2 separate regions of the Homo sapiens genome follow, and region 2 is linked to region 1. Evidence: fine-mapped expression QTL. A gene starts in region 1. The other region holds a variant in brackets. All regions are shown on one strand. Distances are between the middles of the regions.

The links.
Region 2: its variant is fine-mapped to the expression of AP2A2 in whole blood (TOPMed, PIP above 0.99).

Annotation. Positions count from the first base shown.
Region 1 is chr11:920,604-932,107 of GRCh38, forward strand. AP2A2 (adaptor related protein complex 2 subunit alpha 2) reads left to right here and starts at 5,267. Exons shown (of 22, transcript NM_012305.4): 1 at 5,267-5,485. The coding sequence starts at 5,419. RefSeq lists an enhancer at 1-79 and a silencer at 5,079-5,618.
Region 2 is chr11:985,272-998,172 of GRCh38, forward strand. AP2A2 (adaptor related protein complex 2 subunit alpha 2) reads left to right here. Exons shown (of 22, transcript NM_012305.4): 8 at 164-311; 9 at 1,514-1,682; 10 at 3,281-3,418; 11 at 7,232-7,414; 12 at 8,013-8,110; 13 at 8,483-8,714; 14 at 8,801-8,974. Among named protein-coding and RNA genes, the nearest start is that of MUC6, 45 kb to the right of the region's middle. RefSeq lists an enhancer at 9,013-9,537. The variant C/G (reference allele first, on the strand shown) is at 7,423.

The DNA.
Region 1 (11,504 bases):
AGTGCAGTGGCGCAATCTTGGCTCACTGCAAGCTCCGCCTCCCGGGTTCACGCCATTCTCCTGCCTCAGCCTCCGGAGTAGCTGGGACTATAGGCTCCCGCCAGCACGCCCAGCTAATTTTTTGTATTTTTAGTAGAGACTGGGTTTCACCATGTTGGCCAGGGTGGTCTTGAACTCCTGACCTCGTGATCCACCTGCCTTGGCCTCCCAAAGTGCTGGGATTACAGGTGTGAGCCACTGTGCCTGGCTTTTTTTTTTTTTTTTTTTGGCAGAGTCTTGCTCTGTTGCCCAGGTTGGAGTGCAATGGTGGGATCTTGGCTCACTGCAACCTCCAGTTCCCAGGTTCAGGCGATTCTTCTACCTTAGCTTCCCTAGTAGCTGGGACTACAGGTGCCCACCACCATGCCCAGCTAATTTTTTATATTTTTAGTAAAGACAGGGTTTCACTATGTTGGCCAGGCTGGTCTTGAACTCCCTGCCTTAAGTGATCCACCCGCCTCTGCCTCCTATGGGAGAGGATCACAGGCATGAGCCACTGCGCCTGGCCTGGAATTTTCTTGACCATACTTTTTTTTTTTTTTGAGACAGAGTCTCGCTCTGTCACCAGGCTGGAGTTCAGTGACGTGATCTTTGCTCACTGCAACCTCTGCCTCCTGGGTTCAAGTGACTCTCCTGCCTCAGCCTCCCGAGTAGCTGGGACTACAGGCACGTGCCACCATGCCCAGTTAATTTTTGTATTTTTAGTAGAGACGGGGTTTCACCATGTTGGCCAGGATGGTCTTGATCTCTTGACCTCATGATCCCCCGATCCCCCCGCCTCGGCCTCCCAATGTGCTGGGATTACAGGTGTGAGCCACCGTGCCTGGCCTTGACCACACATCTTATGCAGGAGCTTAGAGGGCTGCCCCTCTGTTGGCCCAAGGGTGCCCTGAGCCGGTAACCCGTACTAGGGGCTGCTTGGGACAGACCTTGATGATGTCATCACCCTGCCACCTAGTGGGGTGTCTGGCCTCCTTGGCCTTAGTCACCCCGAGCTGCCCTTCTCCTTTGAGAGCAGGGGGCCTGCTGATGTGGCTGCACCCCCACAGCCTCAGAGGACGGCCCTGAGAGCCTGTGAAGGTGCTGGCCTTGTGCAAGTTACACATCTCCAAGCCTTTGGCAGGAAGGGTCTCCTTAGGAGAAGCTGGGCAGGTTCAGTCCCTGAGTCCTCTGAGCCCCTTTTTCTGCATTATGTCCAGGGATTTCTGTCATTGTAACCATGTTTTAGGGGCTGCCCTGCATGTAGCTTCCAGGAATTTGGCCCAGCAGCAGCCGGACGGACCCTGGGCTGCCAGGCTGGCTCAGTTGATCCAGACACCGTGGGTGCTGCAAAGGACCCAGCTGTTGTCCGGGGCCTGTGTCTCAAAAGCCATCCTACAAGTGTTCTGTGGGGTTTTGTTGACAGAAACTCAGCTTCCCGCTGTTCACAGGTGCCCAGTCATCCCCCTCTGTGCGATTGTGGGTGTGGATGTGTTGGGGCCTGACTCAGGATCAAGGGCTGAGCTGGGCGGGGACTCTTGGGAAGTGGGGCTTGGGGTCCCAGGTTATCGAATTTACCCCATGCCAGTTCTCTGGGCCCCGCACAGCACTGCAGCTCTCCCGCCAGACGTCTGGGGAGGCTGCACCTCCCACCCTGGTGGCTGTTTTGCTGCTGTCTGGGCCCAGCTGTGAATGGCTTTGTATTCCTCCGGCTTTGCAGTGGTGAGAAAGATGTGTGGTCATGGCAGCTCCCACCCGCCCCGTGATGAGCACTCAGGAGCCTGAGCTCATCTTCTCCTCCTTCAGGTGGGCTGGCTATACCTGACGCACCCACCCACCGCAGAGTTCCAGAATGCACCCCTCATGCCTCCCACCCTTCCATGGCAGGGGACAGTCAGTTCCCACAGCCTTCCCTGAGCATGTCACTCCTGGGGACTGCAGGTGCTCAGATGATCACGGGGGGGCCACAGGGTCTGAGCATGCCACCTCATTGTCCCTGAACTCTCATGAGTGCACAGGGACCAACTGTACATGGAACATGCTGCCAGACCCTCTTCTGGAAGGGTCATTGTCTGCAACTTACGCCAGAGATGATGAGAAGGAAACTGGGTCATTTGTAAAACAGACATGTTCAGGTCTGGGTAGGACCCAGGGCATGGCCAGCTAACGCTGCAGGGGCTATATGTTGGGGAACCCTGCTGCAGTGAGACAGCACCTCCACACCGCAGCTTGGGGCCCCAGCCTGTTTTCCCTTCATGATGCCCACGTCGGGCTTGTATCTGTGGACCCTGGCTTCCCCATGGCTGTGGATGAAGGAAAGCGACTCGTCCCCACCTCTGCCCTTGGGAATAGTACTGTGACCTTGCGTGGCTAAAGTATGACAAACGTTCAAATAATTTAAGAAATGGCTGGGCGCGGTGGCTCACGCCTGTAATCCCAGCACTTTGGGAGGCCGAGGAGGGCGGATCATGAGGTCAGGAGATTGAGACCATCCTGGCCAACATGGTGAAACTCCACCTCTGCTAAAAATACAAAAAATTAGCCGGGCGTGATGGTGCGTGCCTGTAATCCCAGCTACTGAGAAGGCTGAGGCAGGAGAATCGCTTGAATCCGGGAGGTGGAGGTTGCAGTGAGCCGAGATCATGCCATTGCACTCCAGCCTGGGCGACAGAGCAAGACTCCATCTCAAGGAAGAAAAAAAAAAAAAAAGAAAGATACTGAGGCTAGGCACAGTGGCTTGTAATCTCAGCACTTTGGGAAGCCAAGGCAGGAGGACTGCTTGAGCCCAGGAGTTCAAGACCAGCCTGGGCAACATAGTGAGACTCCATCTCCACAAAAATCAGAAACTTAGCCAGGTGTGGTGGCGTGCACCTGCAGTCTAAGCACTTTGGGAGCCAAGGCAGGAGGATGGTTTGAGCCCAGAAGGTCGAGGCTGTAGTGATTCATGATTGTACCACTGCACTCCAGCCTGGGAGTCAAAGGGAGAAACCCTGTCTCTAAAATTAAACATAAATAAATAAATAAATAGGCCAGGCATAGTGGCTTGCATCTGTAATCCCAGCACTTTGGGAGACACAGGCAGGCGGAATGCTGGGATTACAGGAGTTCAAGACCGGCCTGGGCACCGTGGTGAAATGCCATCACTACAAAAAATAAAATAAAGAAAAAGAAACTGTTTCCTAGGACTGCGCACTCCCGAAGCTGGCCTCTCCCGAGCCGAGGAGTGGCAGTGGTCAGAGAGGCCCACATGGACTCAGACCCAAGGCTGGGACTGGAGTGAATCATCTGGAGGGCTTGCGTGTCTGCAAGGGCAACGACGCTGGAAGGAGGTGGGAAGTCTTTTGCATGGCTGCATGTCGGGCCTTCTGGGACCCCTAAACACTCTTGTGTGGACGGGAGGATGTCTGTGGGAATCCCAGAGCTGGCACTGAGGAGGAGTCTTCCGAGTGGGCGGAGGGGGATGCCTGCCAGGCCCAAGCCCTCCTGTGGGCAGCCCCTGCAGCACCCCCATTGCCCTGCTCTGTGAGTGGCTGCTGGTGGGGGGGCACAGTGGTCTGCTTGTCTCGGTCTTCTGCACTGCCACTGCCAATGGGAGCTTGGATTAGGCATGCCAGCCTCCTGACGCCCAGAGCCCATGCTCTGCCCACGTGTGTTAGTGGACGGTCCTCGTGACTGCTGGGACTGTCCTGGAGAGCAGCCCAGGACCCCTCACATGGCACAAGATGCTCTTGTGTCCAGAATGGCCTTTATTTGTTGTCAGGGACAGGGGAGGGAAGCTTCTTGGTGGAAGGGAGAGGCTGAAGAATGAACAGCCCCGGGACCACTTTCTCTGCCAGGAGGTGGCACTGGGAGAGGATAGGGACTCCGGAGGGGTGTACCGTCCTCCAGGAAGCCCTCTGCTGGGTCGGCTCCGTGCCTCTGTCTTGGGAAGTGATGGACTTGGTTGCCTTATGCTGACTGGGGTCTGTCACAGATCTTGGTTTTCCCCAGGAGTTCTGGAGGCCCAGAGCCTGGGTGCGGCACCCGGTTCATTGGGGAGGGGCATGGGTCCTGTGCCCTCCTCCTGGCCGGGCTCCACCAGGGCTAAGCTCTCATCTGGGGCTGCGGAAGTGAGCCAGGGTGGGGACAAAGCCCTGGCTGGTGGGTCTGGGCCAGTTCCAGGTACAGGGTCCAGATCCCCCCACTGCAGCAGGAGGGAGCTTCCTGTTCAAAGCCATCTGGCTCTGGGAAGGACAGTGAGGCAGGGCCATCTGCTTCCCCACTCCCTGGGGTCTCTTCCTGGCCGGGACCTGGAGCTGTGCAGCCTGGCCCAGCAGGTCCTCCCTTGCGATGTGTCCACAGGGGTGGGCCTAGGCCTCCAGCTTGCAGTGGTGCAGAGGGCTGGGGAGCAGAGGGGGCCCTGGCAACAGTGGCCAAAAGTCCTGGCGCCGCCGAGGGACTAGATTCCGCAGGGGCTGCCGCCCCCGGCCGCTGTCACTGGGGTGGGGTGGGTGGTTGTTTCTCTGCAGGCCCAGGTGATGTGGAGGGGGCACCTGGGCTGCCACACAGACCCTGGGCTGGGTCGGGCACGGGGCCTGCCTCGCCCCCAGCTCAGGGACCGCAAGAGATGTGGCCCTGGCGGCTCAGGGCGGCAGGAGGGGCGGGCCAGCCCCACCGTCTCAGGATACCGTGCTAGGGGAGGGTTTCCTCGCCAAAGGCCGTCCAGCGGCTGTGACCCCTTCGCCTGGAGCCCCAGCTTCCTCCCGGCGCCGCCCTCCCGCCCCGGCCCCCGCGGAACAAACAAGGCCCTGGCCTCGGAGCTGCCCCGCCGCCCAGCGCTCACAGGTCGTTTATTCCAAGTAAGAAAACGGAGACTGCTCGGGGCAAGCTAGCGGGGCCGAGGCCCAGGACGAGGCCGTACGCGTGTGCCTGCGTGGCCGCCTCTTTTGCAGTGACCACCAACAACGACAGAGGCGGCCCGCTGCACACGCGGGTTCCCGCCCGGACCCACGCCCTTCCCGTGGGGGACGCGGGCGGCATCGCCAGCTTGGCGCGGCCCCGGGACGCGAACGCGTGGCTTCAGCGGCTCCGTCCATGGTGTCCGCCTGCAGGGGGCGCCCCCGCGCCTGCCTCGACCGGCTCGCCCCCGTGCCGCGGACGCGCGCGCGCTGCCTCACGCGACACCCGCCCCGGCCGCCGTCCGTCGTCGCTCGCGTGCGTGCGCGTGCGTGCTGGTGCGGGCGCCGTACGTGCGCGCGCGCGGCGGCCCAGAAAGCGGCGCTGGGACCCTGAGGCGGCCGTGGTTAGGCGGCTCCCCGGCGGCTCCTCCGCGGCGGTGACGGCGACCGCACTCCCCGCTTCCCGCTCCCCGCGCTCCTCCGCCCGGGTCCGCCAGCCGAGGCCGCTCCCGAGCGTCGGAAGATGCCGGCCGTGTCCAAGGGGGACGGGATGCGGGGCCTGGCGGTCTTCATCTCGGATATCCGCAACTGTGAGTGGCGGGGGCGGCGTGGGGCCGGGGCCGGGGCCGCCGGCGGAGACGGGGTCTGGGAGCGGAGGCCCGGGGCGGGGCCTCGAGGCGGGGGTGCAGGCTGGGATGCGGGCGGGGCCCGGGGCCTGAGGGTGCGGGCGGCGCTCGGGGTCTTGGGGTACCGGGTCTGGGGGTGGGGGCCAGGGTGCGGGGTGGGGGTCCAGGGTCTGGGGGTGCGGGCGGCGCTCAGAGTCTTGGGGTATCGGGTATGGGGGTGCGGGTCAGGATGCAGAGCGGGGCCCTGGGTCTGGGGGTGCGGGGTGGGGTGTCCAGGGTCTAGGGGTGCGGGGTCTAGGGGTTTAGGGCACGGCCCTTCATCCACATCTCCACTCCCGTTTGCTGGTCCGTGCGGGGGGCTGCGGCACCACCAAGGGGGTTCCGGGCCAAGACGCCCCTCCCCAGCATGATGTCACCTTGGTCTTTCTAGTACTGGAGCGTTTAACCCAGCGTTTTCCAAAACGGCGTGGATTTTAGCTTTGGGAGCAGAAATCTGGAAATCAGTGTCTTCCCAGGAAACAGCTTTGTGACCTGGGTTCTGGAGGCTTATTAACCCCTGATTAGATCTCACCTACGACGATTAAAATGACTCATTCCCGGAGGGAATCTGGACACGAGCAGCAGTCGGGGTGTGGGATGGCCTCGCTGCCTGCTGCTCCAATCACAGACCTCGTTCTCAGCCCCGTGCCTGTCCCCTCGGGGTGGGAAAAATCCACACCAAACCGTTAAACAAGCCAGGAAGGCTGGGCCTGTTAGAAGGATGTGCAGGGTGGCTGGGTGGGTGCACCGGTCCACCAATTAATTTGACTTTGGTGTGCAGAACCTCCTCTTGGCTTTCAGAGGCCATCTCCTTATTTAATTTGAGGGAGAAACAAAGCCAGTTTCCTGTCTGCTGCGTTGATTTTTTTCCTTGTTATCCAGCAAATAGTTGACTTCATGATTTTTGTTTTTCTTTTTTTTGAGACAGGGTCTTGCTCTGGCTCTCAGGCTGGAGCGCAGTAGTTCCATCACGGCGCACTCAACCTCCCACCTCAAGTGATCCTACCACCTCAGCCTCCGGAGTCACTGGGACTACAAGCGTGCACCACCACCATGCCTGGCTGATTTTCGTGTTTTTTGTAGAGATGGGGGGGTCTCGCCATGTTGCCTAGGCTGGTCTCGAAATCCTGAGCTCAAGTGATCCACCTGTCTTGGCCTCCCAAAGTCCTGGGGTTACTGGCGTGAGCCACGGCACCCTCATAATTTTTAATGTGTATTTTGAGGGACTGTTGTGATCTTCCCTTTGAATTCTCATCTCCTTAGACGGGATGGAGGATCAGGAGGATAGTGGTTCTCCCACACTCTGTGGAAGGGTAGAGGACCATCTAACCCTTCCTGTACTCTGTTAAAAAAAAAAAAAAAAAGCATAGAGCTGGGTGCGGTGGCTCAAACCTATAGTCCCAGCATTTTGGGAGGCTGAGGCAGGTGGATCTTTTGAGCCCAGAAGTTTGAGACCAGCCTGGGCAATGTGGTAACACCCTGTCTCTACAAAAAAATACGAAAATTAGCTGGGCGTATTGGTGTACACATCTATAGTCCCAGCTACTTGGGAGGCTGAGAGAGGAGGATCACTTGACCCCAGGAGGTTAAGGCTGCAGTGAGCTGAGATCGCGCCATACTCCAGCCTGGGTGACAGAGTGAGACCTTTCTCACAAAAAAAAAAAAAAAAAAAAAAAAGGCTTAGAAACACCCTCAGATCAGCACTTTTACGAGTAGCATTTTTTCTCTTTGTTTGTTACATAATGAGACCAACATGCATTTTGTAAAACTAAGTGTGTGTATTATTTCTTAAGGGGACCTCTGGGACAAAGACTGAGTACCCTTAAATGCGCTATGATGTCTGTCCTTCCATTTTTGAAGAAAATTGCGTTAGGCAGGACAATGAGATTGAAAGCCATTTCCTCAGACAGCAAGTCACCCACTTGTCAGATATATTGTCTGTGCCAGGGCCTGCGTTTGACAGGATGGCGCCTACCACAGTGAGTGCGGTATAGCCGTCCTCCCTTATTTGTGGTTTCACCTTCTGAGGTTTCAGTTACCTCTGGTGATCTGAAAATAGGTGAGCATAGTACAATAAGATATTTAAAGAGACCACATTCATATAACTTTTATTACAGTATATCATTACAGTTCTTTTTTATTATTGGCTTCTGTTAATCTCTTACTGTGCCTAATCTGTAAGTTAGACTTTTTCATAGGTATGTGTGGGAAAAAAGCAGCTTGTATAGGATTTAGTATCATCTGAAGTTTCAGGCACCCACTGAGTGCCTTGGAACGTATACCTGTGGATATGGGGAAACTGCTGTACTCTATAAAATACTTGACTATATAGACCAGACTTTCTCCAACTCAGCAGAGCTGACATTTGGGGCTGGATCACACTTTATTGTGGGGAACTGTTCTGTGCCTTTTAGGATGTTTATAGCAGCACCAGTTGCCTTAGTTGTGATAAGGAACAATGTCTCCAGGCATTGACAAATGTGCCCTTAGGGCAAAGTTGTCCGCCGTCGAGAACCACTAGTGTATCCCATTGAATAACACAGCCCCTCCCCTGAAGGAGCTCGTAGAAGAAGGGGTGCTTAGTCCTAGCTGGGGGAGCCAGGTCTCTTTAATACGGCCCCTTTCTCGGAATCCTCTTTCCCTCATTGCTGTTGGATGGCCTCTCATCAGCTGCAGCGCCCACCATTCTCCTCCTGGGCAGTGTCTTCAGCTTGTGGTGCTGCTTTTCACCTGAGTGGCCCCATCTCCCCCACTGCCCTCTAGGGTGGCCTCTACAAGGTGCGCACCCTATCTTGCTCATCACATTTTTCCTGCTGTTCTCCTCATGGCGAGCGTCTGGCATGCGAGGTGCATGCCAGAGAAGACCTCACAAGGAAGGTGATTCTTGGGCAATTCAGGCAGAAGACCAAGAAGGTATTAGAGGAACAGCAAATAATTAATGTATATACGTATTGAGTTAATGAATGTTGGCTGGTGCCTGGAGACGGGATTGGAGAGCCAGCCAGGGTTTGAGCTGATCTGAACTTGACCTCCATGTCACAGGCAGAGGGGTCCCCGCTTCCCCTTTCCCTGGCCAGCTCTGATTTTGTGTGCTGTTTTCCTGTCATGAGAGTGAATGATAGGAGTAGTCGGGCCCTGTGGAAAGAGGACTCTGAGCCAACAGCCAAGGCTCTTGACCCTGACTCTGCCTCTTAGCAGCTGCATGAGTGGAGGCCACTGGCCATGGAGCCTCAGTTTCCACAGCGGACAGTTGAAGGGCTGGATTTTCAGCTGAAATATCATTAAAGCTGCGTGAGTGGAGGCCACTAGCCACGGAGCCTCAGTTTCCTCAGCTGACGCTTGAAGGGGCGGATTTTGAGCTGAAATATCGTTAAAGCCTGTTTCAGCTCCAAATTTGCGTCTTTCTGACCAGTTTCTTAAGTTTTCCTCCTTTAGCCTGGGCAATATAGTGAGACCCCTGTCTTTTCAAAAGAGAAAAAAGAATTAGCCAGGCGTGGTGGCACGCACCTGTGGTCCCAGTTACTCAGTGGGCTGAGGTGAGAGCATTGTCTGAGCCCTGGAGGTTGAGGCTGCCATGAACTCGGATTGCGCCACTGCACTCCAGCCTGGGCAGCCTGAGGAGCAGATTGAGACCCTGCCTCAAAAAAAAAGTTTTTCCCCTCCAAGACCTGGTGCCAGCCGGGTGCGGTGGCTCACGCTTGTAATCCCAGCACTTTGGGAGGCTGAGGTGGGCGGATCACCTGAGGTCAGGAGTTCAAGACCAGCCTAGCCAACATAGGGAAACACTGTTTCCACAAAAATACAAACATTAGCTGGGCGTGGTGGCATGCACCTGTAGTCCCAGCTACTCCGGGGGCTGAGGCGGAAGAATCGCTTGAACCCAGGAGGCGGAGCTTGCAGTGAGCTGAGATTGTGCCATTGCACTCCAGCCTGGGTGACAGAGCGAGACTCTGTCTCAAAAAAAAAAAAAAAAAAAAAAAGCCCTGTGCCAAGTATCTGAGGTAGCGGACAGGGAGCATGTGGACACTAGGATGCTCTGTTTTCACTTCAAGTAACCCACTCCCAGCAGACTGGCTTGGGGCATTACTCCTCTTAGCATAGGCAGCAATGAATATGCTCCAGGATTTGAAAAGGTGCCTCGTGTCAAGCTCTGCCCCTCAAAGTTGTAGCTTTTGTGGCTCAGGTAGTGAACTAACTTAATGTCTCCTAAAATTAACTTCATCCTTTCTGATTGACGTCAACCCAGCGGCCACTGCATTTGGTCAGCATGCATTCAGTGTGTGAGAGTTAATAAACTGTTTCTTTTTTTTTAAATTGGCATTAAAAAAATTCTAGTCCTTTTATTTAGTCCCAGTTTTAGAATTTTTTTTTTTTTGAGACGGAGTTGCGCTCTGTCGCCCAGGCTGGAGTGCAGTGGCGCGATCTCGGCTCACTGCAAGCTCCGCCTCCCGGGTTCACACCATTCTGCTGCCTCAGCCTCCCGAGTAGCTGGGACTACAGGTGCACGCCACCACGCCCGGCTAATTTTTTGTATTTTTAGTAGAGACGGGGTTTCACCGTGTTAGCCAGGATGGTCTCGGTCTCCTGACCTCGTGATCCACCGGCCTCGGCCTCCCAAAGTGCTGGGATTACAGGCGTGAGCCACTGTGCCTGGTGCCCTACCTTTCTTAATGTGGACATCTTGCATAACTACAGGACATATTCAACACCAGGAAACAGACACTGGTACACACCACCAGGCATATTCAGATTTCGTTAGATCGACATGCACGTGTGTGTGTGTGGTTCTATGCAGTTTAGCACCTGTAGCTTTGTGTAACCGGTTCCCTACCTCAGTCAAGATACAGAACTATACCATCATCACAAAGCTACCCCTTATAGCCATACTCCTGAAACTAATCTGTTCTCCATCTCTGTAATTTTGTGGGCTCAAGGATGTCATATAAAGGGAATCACATCATATGTGATCTTTTGAGATTGCTTTTTTCCCCCTCAGTACAGTCCCATCGAGGTCCATTCAGGCTGGTGCATTGATTGACATTGTATTTGAGCAAAAGATACCGAGAAAACAAAATAACTGCTGAAATTGGGGAAACAAGACCATAATTATTTGCTATTTATTCAGTTATTTTGGAACTTTCGTTTGTTTTTACACAAATGACATATCTGCAGAGGAGAGTTGTATCTAACTTAGTGAATGCATGTCTTTATGCATTGCTGTTGACATGCCAACACTAGAATATTGTTGGAGAGACACAGCACTGCTGAAAATGTTGTCAGGCTCTGAGAATTGACTGCAAAACAATCAGGACTGCAAGGAAAGGGAAGAAGTGATAAGTCCTTTTGAGACCGGTCAGTTTGCCAGGAAAACAACTTCAGGCAGGAAATGACCATTTTTATTTCTCTACATGTGGTGCTGGTGTGGTGCAGATGCTTGGAGGCGTTTTCTTTAACCCCCCCAGGTCCTCACATGAAGGGGAAACAGATGGAGAGATGTTATTAGCAAGATGGCAAAAATGAATTTCCATGGTCTTGAAGAAAGTGATACAGTTTTGCTGCAGGTTTCACGATAAATTAGAAAAATTATCAGTGCTCTGCTCATTGTGGTTGGCATAAAACTTGGTCCCTTCCATTTCTTGTTTTTTTTTTTTTTTTTTTGAGGCAGAGTCTCCCTCTGTCACCCAGGCTGGAGTGCAGCGGTGTGATCTCGGCTCACTGCAACCTCTGCCTCCTGGGTCCAAGTGATTCTTGTGCCTCAGCCTCCTGAGTAGCTGGGGCTCCGCCACCACCACGCCCGGCTAATTTTTTGTATTTTTTAGTAGAGACAGGGTTTCACTGTATTAGCCAGGATGATCTCGATCTCCTGACCTCGTGAGCCACCACGCCCGGCCAGGTTCAAGTGATTCTTGTGCCTCAGTCTCCCGAGTAGCTGGGATTACAGGTG
Region 2 (12,901 bases), 65 kb after region 1:
CGTGCCCGGCCTGTCTCAGTTTTGTAAATGCTTCCAGCTGGGTACACAAATGTGAATGAACTATATTAAAAATGCTCTCATGATGTATGGGTGCAGCCGGGAGGGGCAGGGTGGGCTGCGGGCCACTGGAGACTGGTGAGCACCGTTCTGTCTTGCCCAGAAGACCCTGCAGTGCGAGGCCGCCTGACTGAGTGCCTGGAGACCATCCTGAACAAAGCCCAAGAACCGCCCAAGTCGAAGAAGGTCCAGCACTCCAACGCGAAGAATGCCGTGCTCTTCGAGGCCATCAGCTTAATCATTCACCATGACAGGTGTGTCGGCTGCCTGTGGAGAGGCTTCGTCTCGCGCACACACACACGTTCCTTCTCGTTGGCACGAGACTGGGCGGATCATGTCTGGTTTGTCCACTCCATGGGCCTCCCCTTCGTCCTGCCTCTGTGCTCCCTGCCGGATGCTTTTTTTCTTTCTGTGCAGCCCGGCCCCTCCTGCTCTGAGCTCACCGTGGATTGCTTTGGTGACTGTGGTCTCATCCCACACGAGGGCCTTTTCCTCCTTCCCCTGAGCATCCCCACTCCTGACTGGCTTCTCATGTAGTGGAACAGAGAGGAGACGGGTGGGGTGGGGGGTGTGCGCGCATGTCCCGTGGCTTTGCTGGATGTGGAGCCGCACTTGGTGGGTCCAGGGTCGCAGGGCAGTGCTGGAAACGTCTGTGCCCATCCACGAAGCGCAGAGGCGCAGGGTGGCGGTCGCTCCACACAGCCTGGAGGGTCTGCCTCCTCTGCTCCCACGCCTTCTCTGCTCAGCAGTTGCGGCGCACCACATGTGGTCTGGCGTGGGTCTTGCGTGTGGGGCCATGCTTTAGGGTCCTGTGAGAATGAGATCGCAGTTCTCACCAGGCTCCCAATAATGAGGGCACGTGCCAGGCTGTGGGCAGACGCTCTCTACAGCTTGTGAACACCACCCATTTGCTACTACAGCATTTTTACAAATGATGAAAACTCAGTCTGAGAGTCACACTTCAGAACTGAGAGTTATTAAAACTGAAATTTCCCATTTTGGAGAAAGCTCTGTTGTTATGTGAGGAGAAGCCACATCCTGAGGAGACAGTAGAGTCAGTGGGGCAGCAGCCGCGCTCCCGGCCTTCTCGGCCTTCTCCCTGCCCTGGGCTGGTGCCTCTGGCTGAGACCCCATTGCCGGTCACAGCTTGACCGGCCTCCCGCGGGCCTGATGCAGATTGAGGCTCAGGAGGTGCTGGGAAGGCTCCAGTGGACACACGGGCTGCTGACTCACTGTGGGGATGCACAGGATGGACACAAAATGGATGTCAGGGGTGGGGGTCGGGCGTCATCTGCATCTGGGGAGGCCCCCGAGTTCCCACTTGAGCAGTGTGGTGGCGGTGAGTGCCGTGTGACTTTGCTGTCTGCCATCTGGACCCGTCGGGGAACGCAGACTCTGTCCAGTTTGTGTTGCACTTGCTGAGGAAACCCCACCCACTTCCCCTCCCTCCACACAGTGAGCCGAACCTGCTCGTCCGTGCCTGCAACCAGTTGGGCCAGTTTCTGCAGCACCGCGAGACCAACCTGCGCTACCTGGCCCTGGAGAGCATGTGCACGCTGGCCAGCTCTGAGTTCTCCCATGAGGCTGTCAAGACGCACATCGAGACGGTCATCAACGCCCTGAAGGCGAGTGCCCTGTCCTTGGGTTCTGCTCACTCCCTGAGCAGGTGCCGTGGGTCTTCCTGTGAAGGCTGGGGGTACGCAGTGCCTCCTGACTCCCCGCAGAGATGGAGGTGGTGCTGGTGCTGCTGGCCTCCGCCTGTCACCTACTCTTGGGAGGTCACACCACTGTTGAGGGCCATGCTGCCTGGAGATGGCCGGGTTGGCCCTGCTGTCCTGGTTAGGCTGAGCAGAGGAGTCTCTGGCAGCCCTTTCCCTGCTGGGGGCAGCCCCCGTGTGCCATCCTGCGCGTGCATAGTGCTGACAAGTAGAAATGGTTCTTCTTGGTAGAAAGATGAAATTTTTTTCCCTTATCTCCAAGAAAATCCCCCTTTTACAAAGGAAACTCACTTTGTTCGGGGATTAAAATTTCAGAGTTGGGGCCGGGCGCGGTGGCTGACGCCTGTAATCCCAGCACTTTGGGAGGCCGAGGCGGGTGGATCACAAGGTCAGGAGATCGAGACCATCCCGGCTAACACGGTGAAACCCCGTCTTTACTAAAAATGCAAAAAAAAATTAGCCGGGCGTGGTGGCGGCCGGTGCCTGTAGTCCCAGCTACTCAGGAGGCTCAGGCAGAAGAATGGCTTGAACCCAAGAGGCGGAGCTTGCAGTGAGCCGAGATCGCGCCACTGCACTCCAGCGTGGGCGACAGAGCGAGACTCCGTCTCAAAAAAAAAAAAAAATTTCAGAGTTGGAAGAGCCCAGTTGAGGTTGGCCATTGCCAGCCTTTGCGAGTCTCCAGAGCGACCCCGAGGGTTCGTTCCACATAGGGGACCCTGCGGTGTGTCCACCAAGTCCCTAGTCACCGGTGCACATGCGTTAGGGAGTGGGAGGCGGGGAGCTGCATGTCCCCCATCTGGCTCAGCCTCAGGCTGTGGCAGGGCTGCTCCCAGTCCCCCGCACGTCTGCGTGCAGCTCACAGATATTCCGGGTGGTGTGCAAGGGGCTCGTGGTGGGCATTTGGTATTCTGGATTCTTCTTGGTCCTGGTTTTGGTGTTTGTTTTAGTCAATCCCTATTGTCAGAAGGGCTGGACACTCATTTGCACACGGCCAGTGCTAGCGCTGGTGGTGCCCACTCTCCTGCCTTTGTTGGGAGCAGAGCTCGGGCTTTCTCGTGCTGCAGAGCCTCCTGGGGGCCCATCAGCACGGGCTCTGGGGTGGGGCGTGAGGACCTGCCTTGGGGCAGCTCCGTGTCCGAGGCAGTGGGGTCTTTGGCTGCATGGAAGGGAGTCCTTGATGGCCTGCACCAGGCAGTGCGCTCAGTCCTAGCGAAGCTGGCCCTTGTGGAGGGCAAGGGAGGCATGGACGAGCGGGCAGAATCCAGGCAGTGCGCTGGGTCCTAGCGAAGCTGGCCTGTGCGGGAGGGCCGGGCCAGCAGGCGGAACTCTATTCCGGGCTGTCCAGACACACGTGGCCCGAGTGCAGGTCGGCTCCCTGGACCTGGATGTGCATGTGAGGGAAACTCAGAGTGGGTGTTGAGATGCGGGTGCCGAGCCTGTCCCCAGCCTGTCCCCAAGCTTGTGCCTTGCTCCTGCGACCTCTTACTCTGTGCCTTGTTCCCCAGACTGAGCGGGACGTGAGCGTGCGGCAGCGGGCCGTGGACCTCCTCTACGCCATGTGCGACCGCAGCAACGCCCCACAGATCGTGGCCGAGATGCTGAGCTATCTGGAGACAGCTGACTACTCCATCCGAGAAGAGATTGTGAGTTCTGGTGGCCTCTGAGTCCTCTCCTGCCACAGGCGTGAATCTCAGCGGCAGGATTTCCTTCGTGCTCTGCGATTCCGTCCAGCAGGACTTGATTGAGAACCCATGAGATGCTGAATACAAGGCTCCTCTGCCTCTGTGTTTTCATCCACATTTTCAAGCTGGGTGTGGTGGCACCTGTGGTCCCCGCTACTCCTGAGGTGGAGGCGGGAGGATCACCTGAGGCCAGGAGGTTGAGGCTGCAGTGAGTCGAGATCATGTCACTGCACTCTAGCCTGGGCAACACAGCGAGACCCTGTCTTAAAAAAAAATCAGCATTTTTGGTAGAGTCGTTTGGTCTTGAAAATAACTATTGGCCGGGTGTGGTGGCTCACGCCTGTACACCTTGGGAGGCCAAGGCGGGCGGATCACCTGAGGTCAGGAGTTCAAGACCAGCCTGACAAACATGGGGAAACCCTGACCCCGTCTCTACTGAAAATACAAAATTAGCCGGGCGTAGTGGCGCATGCCTGTAATGCCAGCTACTCCGGAGGCTGAGGCAGGAGAATCGCTTGAACCCGGGAGGCGGAGGCGGAGGTTGTGGTGAGCCGAGATTGCGCCATTGCACTCCAGCCTGAGCAACAAGAGCGAAACTCTGTCTCAAAAAAAAAAAAACTAAAATGCCCGTCCTGCGCGGCTTCTGTGGCCTGCCTGTCCTTGCAGTGGTGGCACTGTAGCCCCAGGTCTGAGTGAGGCTCCAGCCGTCTGCGCTGGGGCTGCACAAATCCAGACTCCTGTGGGCAAAATTCTTTTAATTGTGTTGCATTTTGAGCCCTTGAATTAATCCTTTGTGGCTTGGCTTTTTTGGGTGTCCCTCTTGATCTCTGGGAAGGACGGGATCTAGGCCATAGCTTAATGTCCCGTGTTGTTTTTATTCACAAAGTAGGTGTGCACACTTGCCAGATAGCTGAAGCTCATCAAACCTGTACGTGTGAAAGACTGAGCATGAACCAAAACCTGAGGGAAGAAACCCTTGTGGAGGCCACATGGTCAGCAGAGAAGAGGGCCTGAGGCCTCCACCACACTCACAGGCCTCTCAGGCTCACCGTGTCTGTGGATGGTGGGGTTTAAGGGGGAGGCCCGGTGTCCTCGCGTGGGGTTCGCCACTGTGACCAGCCAGGACCACAGCCTCTTGTTGAGGCTGAGACAGCGCCTCCGTTGTATAGAAAGCGCTTTGTTATTTGTTTTTTTTGGGCGAAGTGCGGCTCAAGGCCTCCTTGGGAGCTTTGCCGAGAGCCAGTGTTGGAGCTAGTGGCAGGTGACAGGGTTGCTCTGGGCAGGTGTTGTGTGGTCATGCCCAGGTGAGAGACTCGGGTTTTCAGGGGTCTTTTAGTGAACGGAGGAGCCCAGGTGCTGGGGCTTCAATGCTGAGGGGTGAAATTACCATGGACTGAGCTTCAGTGAGGCACTGCAGACCTGCAGAGAGCAGGGGCCAGGAGGCGGCTCTCACGCTGGACTGTCCACCCTCCAGGACAGTGGGCCTGGGAAGTTGAGGGGGACAGGGACGGGGTGGGCTGACTCCCGGCAGGAGGCCCCAAGGGCAGGCACCGTGGTGTAGGGCAGGGCTGTCTGTAGAGGGGCCAGGCAGGTGCTCGTTGACTGTAGCCAGTGGTCCCTCTCTGGCCTGGCTGGGGCAGTGTGGCCTGGTGTCAGCACTTGTGGTGGGGTGGGGCTGGCTCTGGGGACGGCCGTCACGGGAGCCTCGTTCCTGATTGTTGTTCTGGGTGTTTTGAACAGAGACAGAAGCAGTGTGCTTCTGAGTGCAGTTGTGCAGATTTTGAGGTCCTGGGCATTCGTCAGCCCGGTGTCTGCTCTCGCCCCTCTGCGTGATGAGCGGCAATCCTCAGCCAGCTCCTGCTGTGAGGAGTAAGACAGGTGCTGTGTCTTGGCCTGCATGATGCTCCCCCCAGCCCGTCCTTTCAGCCGGACATGATGCTCCCCTCACCCCATCCTTTCAGCTGGGCATGGTGCTCCCCCACCCCATCCTTTCAGCTGGGCATGGTGCTCCCCCCACCCCATCCTTTCAGCCGGGCAGGGTGCTCCCCCCACCCCGTCCTTTCATCTGGGCATGGTGCTCCCCTCACCCCATCCTTTCAGCTGGGCATGGTGCTCCCCCCACCCCATCCTTTCAGCTGGGCATGGTGCTCCCCCCACCCCATCCTTTCAGCTGGGCATGGTGCTCCCCCCACCCCATCCTTTCAGTCGGGTATGGTGCTCCCCCCACCCCATCCTTTCAGTCGGGTATGGTGCTCCCCTCCGTCCTTTTAGCCGGGCATGGTGCTCCCCTCCATCCTTTCAGCCGGGCACGATGCTCCCCCCACCCCGTCCTTTCAGCCGGGTATGGTGCTCCCCTCCGTCCTTTCAGCCGGGTATGGTGCTCCCCTCTGTCCTTTCAGCCGGGTATGGTGCTCCCCTCCATCCTTTCAGCCGGGCATGGTGTTTCCCTCTGTCCTTTCAGTCGAGCATGGCAGGGCGTGTTCTCTGGCTGTGCTAGGTGCTAAGTGTCCAAACTGGACATGGCCCACTCCCTGCCTACTCGGCACCTTGCCATCCATGGAGGGGGACGGATTGAGAGCAGGACCGTGGGTTGCTGTGCTGTGGGTGGGATGGCTGGAGGAAGTGCCTCATGTTCTGGGGGCCTCAGGAGGCATTACACTCCTGGGGGGCTGTGTGGACTTCTGCAGAAGGTGATAGTGGCCTGGTCTGGAGAGGATGATGGTGCAGAGGCTACTGGGAGGGCAGAGCATCCGTTCGTGGAGGGGTGGGAGGTACCTTAGCACAGGCTGGGGAGCAGGGCACGCGAGGCAGGGGTGGAAGCAGACATGGGGACCCTGCCAGTGAGGCCTGAGGGCCCCTGGTGCACAGCCGTGAGCTGCGGGTAGGGCTCAGAGGCAGTACATTTTGGAATGATGCCCTGGAAGTGTCACGGAGTCAGGTTGGGGTTTGGGGGTCCAGGCTCCAGGCAGGGACTTGGGGTGGGGGGGCACAGTCACCAGCACCTGAGAGGCCAGTGGCAGGGTGTGGAGAGGGGGCGGCAGGGTGTGGGGAGGGGCGGCAGGGTATTAGGGGTGCCCTCGGGAGGTGCGCGGTCTTGATGCCTGCTGGCGTTGGTGTTGGCAGCTGGCGCTGTTCGAAGGGGGCTTGGTTCCAGGCGAGGTGACTTTGGGGAGATGAGTTTGGTGTTGTACAGCCTGGCAGAGCTCCATGTGGGTGGCTGCCACGTGGGTGTGGGCTGGGCAGGTGCCTCCGGGGGGCACCCGTGAGAGTGAGCCAGAGAGGGGAAGAAGGGGAACCCCCAGGTGAGGCTCGCAGGAAAGACTGGCCAGAGCCGGAAGAAACCAGCAGAGAAGTGGCCGCCGGGAGCCCAGGGTGGCGCAGTCACTGGCCGCCGGGAGCCCAGGGTGGCGCAGTCAGAGGTCAGAGGAGTGCTGCCACCGGGAGCCTAGGGTGATGAGGTCAGAGGAGTGCTGCCGCCAGGTGCTGGGGCTTTGGGAGAGAAGGGCCCAGGTGGGAGGTGGCCTGGCTGTGGCCGTGGCCTTCTGTGCACTGGTCTCCGCCTCTTCCTGGCTTTCTTTGCTTAAGTCAGGGCATCTTAAACTTTCTGGGCTCGTGGGCTTTTTTGAGAATCGAGTTCAAGCTTCCTCCATGTCCCAAACTTTTGTAGACACATTGAGGTGCTTCTGAAACTCTCACTTTGACTTTGGACGACAGTTTGGTCTTGGGATTGCCATGGCCTGCAGGTGCCGGCCCTCAGCAGCCTGTCCCCCACAGGTGCTGAAGGTCGCCATCCTGGCTGAGAAGTACGCGGTGGACTACACCTGGTATGTGGATACCATCTTGAACTTGATCCGAATTGCTGGTGATTACGTGAGTGAAGAGGTGTGGTACCGAGTCATTCAGATCGTCATCAACCGGGACGACGTGCAGGGCTACGCGGCCAAGACTGTGTTCGAGGTATGGCC[C/G]GCAGGATGGCAGGAAGGATGGGGTGGAGGGCAGTTGCAGAAGGTGAGCAGTGAGTGGTTCCAGCCTGCCTGCGTGGAGGTGCCGAGGGCCGTTGCTGACCCCTCTTGCCCCTCAGCTCTTCCCTGAGGCTCTAGCTCCTCCACTGTTGGTGCCCCTTGCTGAGTCCCAGTTTCTTCTCACCCTAACTCTCAAACTTCTGGCTCTCTGGGGGCCACCTGAGAAAGCCGGCCTCTGTGTGTGTGAGAGCATGCTGGGGCATGCCGTGGTGGGGCCTGCCCTGTCCGTCGGAGAGGGTTAGGCCACCGGCAAGGGGTGTGCCATGAGGACGCTGGCAGAACCTCCCCAGCCAGAGCCTGTTGTGGATGCTGCAGCTCCCTCCAGGGCAGGTCAGCGTGTGGCAGCCTTGGGTTCCTTGCTGCTGACACAGGTACTGAGGGTGCTGAGGAAGGCAGGGATGGGCACTTGGACTGGGGTCTCCAGGAAGCTGAGGGGCTGGTGCTGGTGTAGGGTGCACCGCGCCAGGACGTGCCCGCCTCGCCTTAACTCTGGCACCTGGCTGCCACCCCGGCTCATTGTTTGTGCTTCGCAGGCTCTTCAGGCTCCCGCGTGCCACGAGAACCTGGTCAAAGTGGGCGGCTACATCCTGGGGGAGTTTGGAAACTTGATAGCTGGAGACCCGAGATCCAGGTGAGAGGCCCTTTGCGAGTCGGGGCTGTGTGCGCTCCGGCGGGCCTCTCGGTGGTCGGTGGCAAGAGGCGAGGCACCAGCTGGCCCTGCCGTGAGGCCTCGCAGAGCCGCTTCTGCTCCCCATCGGCGTCTTTTTGTTTTCCTTCAGTTGATAGAAAAAGCAGGGATTCTAGTAGAAAATGGAGACGTGGGGTTGATGGCTGACTTAGTGAAAGGGGCGTCTTTGCGGTGGGATCTGGAGCTGGAAGAGGGTCCCGACCAGCGGCCTCTGGTGCAGGCCAGGGGGTCTCGCCGCCGTCCCCCCCCCGCGGGGGCGTGCTGCAGCCTGCGAGGGGACGACGGTGTCCCTGTGTTGTGCCTCCCCGTCCCCAGCCCGCTGATCCAGTTCCACCTGCTGCACTCCAAGTTCCACCTGTGCAGCGTCCCCACCCGCGCGCTGCTCCTGTCCACCTACATCAAGTTCGTGAACCTCTTCCCGGAGGTGAAGCCCACCATCCAGGACGTGCTGCGCAGCGACAGCCAGCTCAGGAACGCAGACGTGGAGCTGCAGCAGCGTGCTGTGGAGTACCTGCGGCTCAGCACCGTGGCCAGCACCGACATTCTGGTAGGAGGCCCCCGCCCTTCGGGCTGGCTTGGCTGAGGGTTGGAGGCCAGGAGCTCTGACCAGTCCCACCCTGTGTTCTTTCCAAGGCGACCGTGCTGGAGGAGATGCCCCCATTCCCGGAGCGGGAGTCCTCCATCTTGGCAAAGCTCAAGAAGAAGAAGGGCCCCAGCACGGTGACAGACCTGGAGGACACCAAGCGGGACAGGAGTGTGGACGTGAACGGGGGTCCTGAGCCTGCCCCAGCCAGTACCAGCGCCGTGGTGGGTCCCTCACCTACTGTGCACCCAGACCTGTCAGGGCCTCACCCCCAAGACTTGGGACCAGCAGAGCATTTGCCTGTCAGGGAGGAGCATGTACTGAGAACCCAGGCTCTGGCTGTGGCTCTGGACACCCCGCTGTCCTGTCCTGGGGGCCACTGTCCCTGCTGGACACGCTGCTGTCCTGTCCTGGGGGCCACTGTCCCTGCTGGACGCCACGCTGTCCTGTCCCGGGGGCCACTGTCCCTGCTGGACGCCCCGCTGTCTGTCCCGGGGGCCACTGTCCCTGCTGGACGCCCCCCTGGCCTGTCCCGGGGGCCACTGTCCCTGCTGGACGCCCCGTTGTCCTGTCCCGGGGGCCACTGTCCCTGCTGCACACCCTGCTGGCCTGTCCCGGGGGCCACTGTCCCTGCTGGATGCCCCCCTGGCCTGTCCCGGGGGCCACTGTCCCTGCTGGACGCCCCGTTGTCCTGTCCCGGGGGCCACTGTCCCTGCTGGACGCCCCCCTGGCCTGTCCCGGGGGCCACTGTCCCTGCTGCACACCCTGCTGGCCTGTCCCGGGGGCCACTGTCCCTGCTGGACGCCCCCCTGGCCTGTCCCGGGGGCCACTGTCCCTGCTGCACACCCTGCTGGCCTGTCCCGGGGGCCACTGTCCCTGCTGGACGCCCCCCTGGCCTGTCCTGGGGGCCACTGTCCCTGCTGCACACCCCGCTGGCTTGTCCCGGGGGCCACTGTCCCTGCTGGACGCCCCTCTGGCCTGTCCCGGGGGCCACTGTCCCTGCTGCACACCCCGCTGTCCTCTCCCGGGGGCCACTGTGCCTGCTGGGCAAGGCACTTCCTTCAGACCGTCGTCTTGTCCAGCTCAGCTCACACATCCTCTGTGGTGCCTTGTTTTAGGGGAAGTGGCCGTCCCCTCTCCTACAGGACTGCCTCACCCAGGCAGCTGTCCTCACATGCTTTGTTGATTTAGAGAGGACCTGTCCTGCCCTGCTCTTCGAGGTTTTATGTAGTGAGTTGGGTTAGGTCTGGTTTTCCTTGTATGTGTGATGCGATGAGAATAATCCTGTAACAGAATGTGTCCTGTGGTATTTGTCAGGTGAGAAGTGTCGTTTTGAGAGTTGCGTTTTTGCTTGGCTCTGCTTGCCAGCTGTTCCCCTCTGCACTGTCAGGGAGGGCTCCTGTCGGGGTCAGGCGGGCTTTCTGTTTGTCCAGTTAGAGGACCTGTCTCTCCAGGACGCAGGTCCAGTGGTGGCAACCAGTGCTGCTACCCAGTATCGGCAGGGCTTTGTGGGGTGAGCTCCTGTGGTGGTGCCTGCCCTGGCAGTGTGCTGGTTGGGAGGGTGCTCATGTCGGAGTCCTGGCACTCCTTGGCGGGGACCTGCTTATGTGCCCCGGCTGACCATGTGTCCTGCCCCTCTGGCCGACAGTGCAGGGCCTGCCATGGGGCTGGTATCCAGGCTGAGCCTGACATCTCAATGAGCAGTCTTCCCTCCCCCTCTTCCTCCCTCTCCCCTCCCTCCACCTAGTGTCCTCTGTGCAGCCCCTGTCCCCCCGTGCCCTCTCTCTGTGTTGTTTGTGGCACGCTGCTGTGCCCGCCATCTGGAGGCTTGAATTGCCTGTGAGCTCATCCTGGAGTGAATGAAATGAATGAAAGATGTGACTCTTTCTCCCAAGGTGGGCGTCTTCCCTTCACGCCTGAGCACCTTCATGCTTATGTTTCTCATGTGCTCTGTAGAGCTGGTGACCTGCTTTTGACCCTGTCTCCTCCCGTGGGACGTCACTAGCCAGGCGCCTAGTGCAGCAGGCCTCTGTCACTCCTCTAATCCATCTCTCCCTCTCCTTTGGACATCTTGACATAGGTTTCTGGAGGCAGAAACTTGCTTGTGGAGATTTGTCTGTGAGCTGCCGGAGCAGGGGCCTTCCCGTGGGTGCTGGGCCGGCAGCGGCTCCGCCCTGCAGAGAGGAGGACGCGGCCCCAGTTGGGTGAGGAGGCGAGGGCAGGATGACGTGATCCAGGGGAGGCTGGTGTGCAGGGATTCCTGGAGGCCGGCTTTCAGCAAGGGCACTGTGAAGTCTTCCACGGAAACCTGGGATTGCCTGTTGGAAGCTGGGAAGGCACCAGGTGCTCTCGCTCCCCTCCAGCTGCTTTGACGTTAAGAGGAACTCGCTGAGGGAGCATGGAAAGGGGCTGTAGGATTGTCTTCAGTCTCTCTTTGGTTCTTATTTGATGTTTCTTTTTAATGTGGGTCCTGAGAAGTGAGGTGTGCCCATACCCCAGGCCTTTGATCACACCCAGGTTTGTCCGGCTAGGCTCAGGGTGGACTTTGGAGGGCCTGGCCTTGACTGTGTGGCTTAGGGATCAGATGGAAGCTTCTGGACCCTGGGAGTGAGAGCAGTGTGCTGCCCTCTGAAAAGGAGGATGAGGGTCCAGTGAGGTTCAGCATTTCTGTAAGGTGCCTTCTTGGAGGGAGTTCCCCCTTCAGGGCTCATTCAGTGGATTTTCTGAGTGTGGCTTCACTCCTGATGGTCAGTGGTGCCTGGCGGGTGGGTTCCTTAGGGAGGTGTCTGTGGCCGAGGCACGCAGCTCTGTTCTGAGCTGAGAGCTGTGGTGTGTGGGCACCTCCGTCCTGACTGAGAGCTGTGGTGTGTGGGCGCCTCCGTCCTGACCGAGAGCTGTGGTGTGTGGGCCCCTCTGTTCTGACCGAGAGCTATGGTGTGTGGGTGTCATTGCTATCCTGTGCTTTCCAATCTGTTCCCATTGCTCACGGGAGCCCCAGTGAGAGGCCCCTCCCTATGGGGAGACACTCCTGGCGAAGTTTTCTTGCTCAGGGTCTTCTGTATGGGCCGTGAAGGGGCCTCAGGGTGGCATCAGCACATGTGCCTTTCCCACGAGAGACAGTGGCTTTATCTTGGTGTCACATTGGCCAAAATGTCTTTTATTTAACATCATAGATGAGGCCAGGACATTTTACTTCTTCCGAGCATCCTCTTTCTGCACACAGCTCCTTGGGGGAGGCTGTGGTGTGCGTGTCCCCGGGTGTGCTGGGGAGCACAGGGGTGTGGGGATCAGAGGCTGCCTGGCTTCACATGCAGGAGCCTGGGGCCCTTGTAGGCAAAACCTTCACCCCTCAAGTTGTCCTGCTATTGGAGGGAGGAGGTGAACTGGTGTGGCCCAGGAGCCAGGCCTGCTCCCTGAGGAGGGTCTCCCAGGCCTGAGAGGATAAGGAAGATGAAGAACCTGAAGTGGGTGTTAGGACCCTACTGTCCTGGGGCCTTGCATCTGGCCTCGCTGTTACAATCTGTGGTAACGTTTCAGGTACAAATGCCTTTACTAGGGCAAAGGGCTTTCCTACTTTAGAAAGCAGTTAAAAGCCATAGATGGCTGGGCATGGTGGCTCACACCTGTAATCCCAGCGCTTTGGGAGGCTGAGGTGGGCGGATCACTTGAGGTCAGGAGTTTGAGACCAGCCTGGCCAACATGGTGAAACCCCGTCTCTTCTAAAAATACAAAAATTAGCCAGGTGTGGTGGTGTGTGCCTGTAATCCCAGCTGCTCGGGAAGCTGAGGCAGGAGAATTGCTTGAACCCAGAAGGCGGAGGTTGCAGTGAGCTGAGATTGCACCACTGCACTCCAGCCTGGGTAACAGAGTGAGACTCGGTCTCAAAAAAATAAAATAAAATAAAATAAAAGCCATAGATGTATTTGAATCAGTGCAGGAACCAGGGTAACATCTGTGATGAGATGCAGAGGAGAAACTGTCTCCATTTGGGCTGCAGGTGCATGGCCATGGCCAAGGCCGATGGCTTCCCACGCAGCTCACAGCTTTGTCAGGCTGTGGAGGCCACAGTGTTGGCGGGCGCTGTCCCCGGCGTAGGGAGCAAAGCGCCGCCTTCAGATGGTCTCATCGAGACACGCCTTGGATATTTTTGG